Linked DNA regions of Homo sapiens. The protein of the gene in region 1 interacts with the protein of each later gene in a biochemical or structural test. Each region holds a gene or a part of one and is shown in the gene's direction. Other genes may lie near its edges.

Region 1 (3,905 bases):
TCTCGAACTCCTGACCTCAGGTGATCCGCCCGCCTCAGCCTCCCAAAGTGCTAGGATTACAGGCATGAGCCACTGCCCCCAGCCTATTTTATTTTATTTTATTTTTTTTTTTTTTTTGAGAGGGAGTCTCACTCTTTCACCCAGGCTGGAGTGCAGTGGCGCGATCTCGACTCACTGCAAGCTCCGCCTCCCAGGTTCATGCCATTCTCCTGCCTCAGCCTCCCAAGTAGCTGGGACTACAGGCGCCTGCCACCGTGCCCGGCTAATTTTTTGTATTTTTAGTAGAGATGGGGTTTCACCGTGTTAGCCAGGATGGTCTCGATCTCCTGACCTCATGATCCACCCGCCTCAGCCTCCCAAAGTGCTGGGATTACAGGTGTGAGCCACCGCGCCCGGCCTATTTTATTTTTTCAAGATGGAGTCTTGCTCTATCACCCAGGCTGGAGTGCAGTGGTGCAATCTTGGCTCACTGCAACCTCCCCCTCCCAGGTTCAAGCAATTCTCCTGCCTCACCCTCCCTAGTAGCTGGGATTACAGGCGCCCGCCACCACACCTGGCTAATTTTTGTATTTTTAGTAGAGATGGGGTTTCACCATGTTGGCCAGGCTGGTCTCAAACTCCTAACCTCAGGTGATCTGCCTGCCTTGATCTCCCAAAGTGCTGGGATTACAGGCGTGAGCCACTGTATCCAGCCTATTTATTTATTTATTTATTTATTTATTTATTTATTTATTTTTGAGACAGAACCTCACTCTGTCACCCAGGCTGGAGTGCAGTGGCATGATCTCAGCTCACTGCAACCTCTGCCTCCCGGATTCAAGTGATTCTCCTGCCTCAGCCTCCTAAGTAGCTGGGATTACAGACGTGCACCACCAAGCCCGTCTAATTTTTGTATTTTTAGTAGAAATGGAGTTTCATCATGTTGGCCAGGCTGGTCTCAAACTCCCGACCTCAGGTGATCCGCCCGCCTCGGCCTCCCGAAGTGCTGGGATTACAGGCGTGAGCCATCGCACCCGACCCTGCTTTATTTACTTATTTATTTATTTTTATTTTTTTGAGACAGAGTCTCACTCTATTGCCCAGGCTGGAGTGCAGTAGTGCAATCTCGGCTCACTGCAACCTCTGCCTCCTGGATTCAAGCATTTCTCCTGCCTCAGCCTCCTGAGTAGCTGGGATTACAGGGGCCTGCCACTGCCACCACACCTGTCTAATTTTTGTAGTTTTAGTAGAGACGGGGTTTCATCATGTTGGCCAGACTGGTCTTGAACCCCTGACCTCAGCTGATCCTCCCGCCCCAGCATCCCAAAGTATTAGGATTAAAGGCATGAGCCTTTTTTTTTTTTTTTTAATTTAAAAAAAAGACAGCATCTCACTATGTTACCCAGGCTGGCCTTGAACTCCTGGGCTTATGCGATTCTCTTGCCTCAGCCTCCTGAGTAACTGGGATTACAGGCGCACTGCGCTTGGCTTCTGCTGCTTTTCTTTGAGGGGGATGGAGTCTCGCCCTGTCTCTCAGGCTGGAGTGCAGTGACACGATCTTGGCTCACTGCAACCTCTGCCTCCCGGGTTCAAGCTATCCTCCTGCCTCAGGCTCCCAAGCAGCTGGGACTAGAGATGGGGTTTCACCATATTAGCCAGGCTGGTCTCAAACTCCTGACCTCGTGATCCACCCGCCTTGGCCTCTCAAAGTGCTGGCATTACAGGTGTGAGCCACTGCACGCAGCCCTGCTGCTTTTTTAAAATGTCAGATTGGGCCGGGTGTGGTGGCTCACACCTGTAATCCCAGCACTTTGGGAGGCCTAGGTGGGTGAATCACAAGATCAGGAGTTTGAGACCAGCCTGGCCAACATGGTGAAACCCAGTCTCTACTAAAAATACAAAAAAATTAGCTGTGTGTAGTGGCAGTTGCCTGTAATCCCAGCTACTCAGGAGGCTGAGGCAGGAGAATCACTTGAACCTGGGAGGCAGAGGTTGCAATGAGTTGAGATTGCACCACTGCACTTCAGCCTGGGCAAGAGTGAGACTCGGTCTCAAAAAAAATAAATAAAAATTAAAAATAAATAAAATGTCAGATTGGCCAGTTTAGTGCTCTGAGGTCTGGTTGCCAATGAGAATGTGTGGTGTGAGCCTTGGGCCCTGGATCCCCTCTCATCGACTCATTATGCACCTCACACCAGGCCACTTTGGAGTTGTCTACCACGGAGAATACATAGACCAGGCCCAGAATCGAATCCAATGTGCCATCAAGTCACTAAGTCGTAAGTGGGGCAGAAGATGGGAAGGCAGAGGGAGGGGCCTCAGGCTGGGAGGATTCTTTTTCTCTGTGTTCCCACCTTACTGAGTGACCCTGAGCAGGAGACCTTCATTTCCCATTTCCCCATCTGAGCCTTATAAAGGGACGCCCTGCCCTGTGCCTGACTTGCGCTGCTCTGCAGGCATCACAGAGATGCAGCAGGTGGAGGCCTTCCTGCGAGAGGGGCTGCTCATGCGTGGCCTGAACCACCCGAATGTGCTGGCTCTCATTGGTATCATGTTGCCACCTGAGGGCCTGCCCCATGTGCTGCTGCCCTATATGTGCCACGGTGACCTGCTCCAGTTCATCCGCTCACCTCAGCGGGTCAGTGTTCATCTGGCTCTGGGTTGGGGGCTGGGCAGCAGCTGGAGAAGGAGCTGCTGTGCCCTTGCCCACCAACCCACCTGTGCCCCCAGAACCCCACCGTGAAGGACCTCATCAGCTTTGGCCTGCAGGTAGCCCGCGGCATGGAGTACCTGGCAGAGCAGAAGTTTGTGCACAGGGACCTGGCTGCGCGGAACTGCATGTGAGAGTCCAGAGTAGCTGGGGTGAAGCAAAAGGACAGGGCATGAGGGTGTGCGGTGCTCAAGGCCGCCTCAGGGAAGGGCCCACTCCAGCCTTGTCCTCCCCTCTCTGCACCTTACTTTTTTTGTCTGCCCAGTGCAGACTTGGACTGGACACTGTGGCTTTGAAATTTGGCCAGGCGCGGTGGCTCACGTCTGTAATCCCAGCACTTTGGGAGGCTGAGGAAGGCGGATCATGAGGTCAGGAGATCGAGACCATCCTGGCTAACACGGTGAAACCCCGTCTCTACTAAAAATACAAAAAGATTAGCCAGGCGTGGTGGCGGGCCCCTGTAGTCCCAGCTACTCAGGAGGCTGAGGCGGGAGAATGGCGTGACCCCAGGAGGCAGAGCTTGCAGTGAGCGGAGATCGCGCCACTGCACTCCAGCCTGGGTGACAGAGCGAGACTCCGTCTCAAAAAAAAAAAAAATTCTGTAAGGGCCTAGAACAGGTGGGTTCAGGGCCTGGTAAGGGCCAGTCCTAAGTGTGATCCTCTCCCTACCCCTAAGGCTGGACGAGTCATTCACAGTCAAGGTGGCTGACTTTGGTTTGGCCCGCGACATCCTGGACAGGGAGTACTATAGTGTTCAACAGCATCGCCACGCTCGCCTACCTGTGAAGTGGATGGCGCTGGAGAGCCTGCAGACCTATAGATTTACCACCAAGTCTGATGTGGTGAGGCCCCACCTGCCCTACAGTCCACATGGCTTTGGCACCCAAGAACACTGGGCCTCACCCATTCAGCTCTGAATGATCTGAGCCCAGGGAGTCCCCAGGGTAGATGACCCCCACAGCCCATCTGCTCACCTCTTGGGCAGATGTAAGATGGAATCTGACACCTGCCAGGGCTAGAGGAGGCTGGGAACTCACTGGCTCCTCACAGATAATCCAGGGCCTGCCCAGCCCCAACTCTGGGTAGGATGAGGTAGTGGGAGGAGACAGAGGAAAGACACAGGTGATGTATTGAGGAATGAGCTCTCAGTGGAGGGTAGGGTCTTCCATTTCCAGCTGAAGGACTCTGGGAGGTAGAAGCCCTGGGGGACCCACCT
Region 2 (3,905 bases), on another chromosome or scaffold:
CCGAGGGGCGCCCGAGCCGCCGCGGCGGTCGCCTGGAAAAGTTTCCCCGCCAGGGCTCCCCAGGGTAAGTAGCGAGGGCGCGGGGCCCGGGGCCCGGGGAAGGCAAGCGCGTCTGGGAGCCGGGCCCGAGGGGAGCCGGCCGGGCCGGGCCGTGGAGCTCTGCCCCAGGAGCGGGCTCCGCGGCCCGGGTGCTCGGGCCGGGGAGGGTCGGGGCACTGGCGCCGGTGCAGCCCTGACCCGGGTCCCCCGGGGCCCGGCTGCCCGCCGGCTTTCCGGAACTGGCCCCGGGGCCGGCCCCGAGGGTGGAGCTGCCGGGAGCAGACAGGGCGCTCCGCAGCCCACCTGAGCGCGCCGGGCCCGTCTCGGCCCCCCGGCCGTGGCTGGTACTTTTCCGCGTGGGGCCAGGGCGAGCCCTCTGACCTCAGGAAGCGCCTGCGGGGCCCCTGCTGGGGGCGGGATGGGGAGAAAATTCCGCAGGCGCCGGGTGCTCCAGCCTCCCCGCCGCCACCGGGGCTGCCGCCGGCTCGCCCACTCCGCGGCCGAGGAGGGCCTGCGTTCCGCCCGGGGAGGGGAGGAGCGGCCGGGGGCGAGGCGGGGGCTCCTTCGCTTGGGCCTCGCCCCCGCCCGCACACCTGTGCGGCCAGGACTCGGGTGCGGGATCCGCGGGCGCCGGCGGCCGGCGCAGGTAGGTCCCTGGGCTGCCTTCTGCCGCGGCCTGGCCGAGGCCCCTGTGCCCCCGCTGTGTGGCTGGACCAAGGGGCGGCCTGCTTGCCAGACAGGTCTGACGGCAGTCACTTGTCTGGTCAGAACCCGCTTTCCCATCATCCTCTACCCCCTGGCCCCTGGGGTGCAGACCCTCATCCACCGGAGAGTGTTGGGATTCCTATTCTGACTTGGGAAGTGCGAGGAGAACCCGGGTGATATGGCCTGGTGAGGGCGGGTGCTGAGCAGGTGTGGACACAGCATAGGAGATTAGCCAAGCCTGACCTCTTCTCAAGCAGGGCAGCCCTCGTTTTACTATTTCCTATATTGGGCTTCTACGGAGCATTTGATTTTTAAAAAGGATTCTGTGGCTTTTTAAAAAGTTTGAAAGCCGCTGGTCCAGCAGTTTTTACCACCAAGGAAACTGAGGCCCAGGGAGAGGAAGTGACTTGTTAAGATCATCCAGCAAATAGTGGGCAGGGACTGGGAGCGATAAATTCACGGGAGCCTCCCAGGGCTGGTAACAGGACCCCGCGTGGTGTCTCTGCTAGAGGGAGAGACTGATTGGGTGTCCGAGTGGCCCTCCCGTGGCCTGCTCTGTGGCTGTGTCAGAGCCAGACCCCCAGTGTCTGGGAAACAGCAGTCGGTCCTGGGGTGAGGCGCAATTTGAGTGGCCCAGAGTGGCTCTCTGTGTCAGGAGGTTCTGGTGCTGGAGAAAAGGGCTTTGCCCAAGAACACAGCCAGGAAGAGCACCCACAGCTCTCTCTGGCCACAGCCTGGAACAGAGTCCCATGTGAAACAAGACCATGAGAAATACAGCAAGCCTCCAGGTTTGAGACAAACTGGGACTAGAGGGTGAGTCAGAGTCTGGGATGGGGGTGGGGAGAAACCCATTCATTCATTGTTTTCAGTTCTTACTCTTTTCGGGGATCCTCCCTTGTCCCACATGCTGTGGCAGAGCCGTCTGTGGGGGTCTCATTTTCTGGAAGCCATCCCCACCCCTCACCATGGCTGGGGTTGTTGGATAGAGGGAGGCTGGCCCTCTTTCTTTGGGGGGACTGTTCAGTTGCGCCTGACGCCTGCTTTCTTTCCGAGTGCTGCAAGGTAATTAAATAGTTGGTTAATCACTTTTAACGCCAAACAGCTGCGGCTCCATCTACAGTGTGCTGGAATCTGGGCTAGACCCAGATGAACCCAGCCTCGATTTGGGGGCTCCAGCAGGACTCACAGCACGGTGGTTGGTGGTGGTGGGGGCAGGGGGGTGGTTGCATGACATCTGGACCCAAGAGGCAGCTGTTGTGGCAGCAAGAGAGAGGAGAGAGATGAGGCCCCGTTCCTATATGGCTCTGCTCCCAGGGTCCCACATCCTCTGTTAAATGAGGGACTTGGGGTGGGGGGGGCGGTCCTTCCATCCCCTAGGGCTGGGGCGCCTAGCTGCCCAGCCATTGATCAGGCCAGCTTTCTGGAACCAACCACCCAAAGCACCATGGGGCTGTGGTTCCGAGGCCTGCCCTGGAAGTCCTGTGGAGTCTGCCCGCAGGGATGTGCAGGAGCTGTATTGTAGATGTCTCCTGCCATCAGCTGTCAGGTTATTTTGGTCCAAACTGAAAATACTCCAGGAATTGTGTGTGGAGTACCCCCAGCCTGCAGGGTGGGACTGCAGCAGTCAGGGAGGCCGGTTGTGTCTAAGGGCAGCTTCTGGAGAAGCAAGGAGTTTTCTGTGGTGAGCCTGCCTCTCTAGCTCCCCAGGGCCTACGTGAGCTGGGGTGCCTTCCTTTTGGTATCCGGCAGAGTGGCCTTGGCTATGGAAGTGCTAAGGGCATCCAGGGCCCTGCTGCTGCTCAGGGAGCTTGGCACTGATATGGGATACCCCCAGCAGCACTGCTGGGACCTCCCCTAGCTTCCCCCCCTTCCTCCAGGGCCTTGGCTTCTGGCTAGTCAGGGGCACTATGTGGGGACAGTTATGTGGCCCCGGGCAGAGAGAGGTCCCGCCGTCTGTTTGCTGAAGGAGGAAAAACAACACTCGGACTATTGATTCAGTCTCACCTTGGCGCTCCTGGCTCAGCAGCCAGTGTTTGCCCTGGCTGCCTGGGCTCGGATTACGCAAGGCTGGTGGGCGTGGAGCAAGCAAGGGGGCAGCTGGGGGCCTCCAGGCCCAGGCAGGGCAGGGCTTGGCGGCCCCAGCGTTCCCCAGGAAACTGTAAAAACGAGTCTGGGGCCCTGACTTTGCTGATAGCGGCCATCTCAGCCATAGAGGGAGGTGAAGCCTCTGTGATCTCCACCCCCGCACCCCCTCAGGACATGGCCCCTAAAAGCACCATCCCATTTAGGGTCACCCATTTTCTTCCTAGGAGCTGTGGGGCTTTGCGAATAACTCCCTATGGCTGAATCTGCTTTGCTGAACTAGGAAACCCTAGTGAGTTGTATAGATGCCATTCATTTAAGAACCTTGAAAAGCCAACATCTTATTCCCATGTAAAACATACCTAGGTGATTTGGAGAATACAGTGACACAAAGAAGAAAATAACAATTACTTGTAATTCTCACCATCTTGAGAGAACCACCGTTAACATTTTTTAGCGTGTGTATCCTTCCAGATTTCGCTTTAGTTTGTATAAATATACATGTATAAATAGTTTTTAAAAAATAAAATGGGATTATGTGTACATACTGCTTTATAATGCATCTTCTTTACCTTGATCATGGTGAACATTTATTCATTTGTTGTTTCTGATTTTGAGTGACTCAGGGCTTGATAGTCTTCATCCTGCTTCTTCTGTTACACTTTTTTTTTTTTTTTTTTTTTTGAGAGGGAGTATCGTTCTGTCGCACAGACTGGGAATGCAGTGGCGCGATCTTGGCTCACTGCAACCTCCACCTCCTGGGCTCAAGCAATTCTTGTGCCTCAGCCTCCCAAGTCGCTGGCACTACAAGCACCCGCCACCACACTTGGCTCATGTTTGTATTTTTAGTAGAGACGAGGTTGCACCATGTTGGCCAGGCTGGCCTCGAACTCCTGACCTCAGGTGATCCACCCGCCTCAGCCTCCCAAAGTGCTGGATGACAGAAGTGAGCCACCATGCCTGGCCCTTCTGTTACATTTCTTATATTCTTGCATGGAGAAAGGATTGGGGGGGATTGTGAGGGCATCCATCTGTCCATCTATGTGGCTGGCCTTGGGGGCTAGATTTCTTCTGGGGAG

Evidence for each region.
Region 2: of the proteins of MST1R (region 1) and FURIN, one has a biochemical effect on the other in vitro, tested with the Homo sapiens proteins (one study listed by IntAct).

The regions. Positions count from the first base shown.
Region 1 is NC_000003.12:49,890,111-49,894,015, reverse strand, and holds part of MST1R (macrophage-stimulating protein receptor isoform 1 preproprotein), read left to right. Parts: intron 1-2,177; coding exon 2,178-2,258; intron 2,259-2,435; coding exon 2,436-2,617; intron 2,618-2,709; coding exon 2,710-2,819; intron 2,820-3,365; coding exon 3,366-3,531; intron 3,532-3,905. UniProt on the Homo sapiens protein: Receptor tyrosine kinase that transduces signals from the extracellular matrix into the cytoplasm by binding to MST1 ligand. Regulates many physiological processes including cell survival, migration and differentiation.
Region 2 is NC_000015.10:90,871,542-90,875,446, forward strand, and holds part of FURIN (furin isoform 1 preproprotein), read left to right. Parts: exon of another isoform or gene 1-64; intron 65-626; exon of another isoform or gene 627-685; intron 686-1,312; exon of another isoform or gene 1,313-1,557; intron 1,558-3,905. UniProt on the Homo sapiens protein: Ubiquitous endoprotease within constitutive secretory pathways capable of cleavage at the RX(K/R)R consensus motif. Mediates processing of TGFB1, an essential step in TGF-beta-1 activation.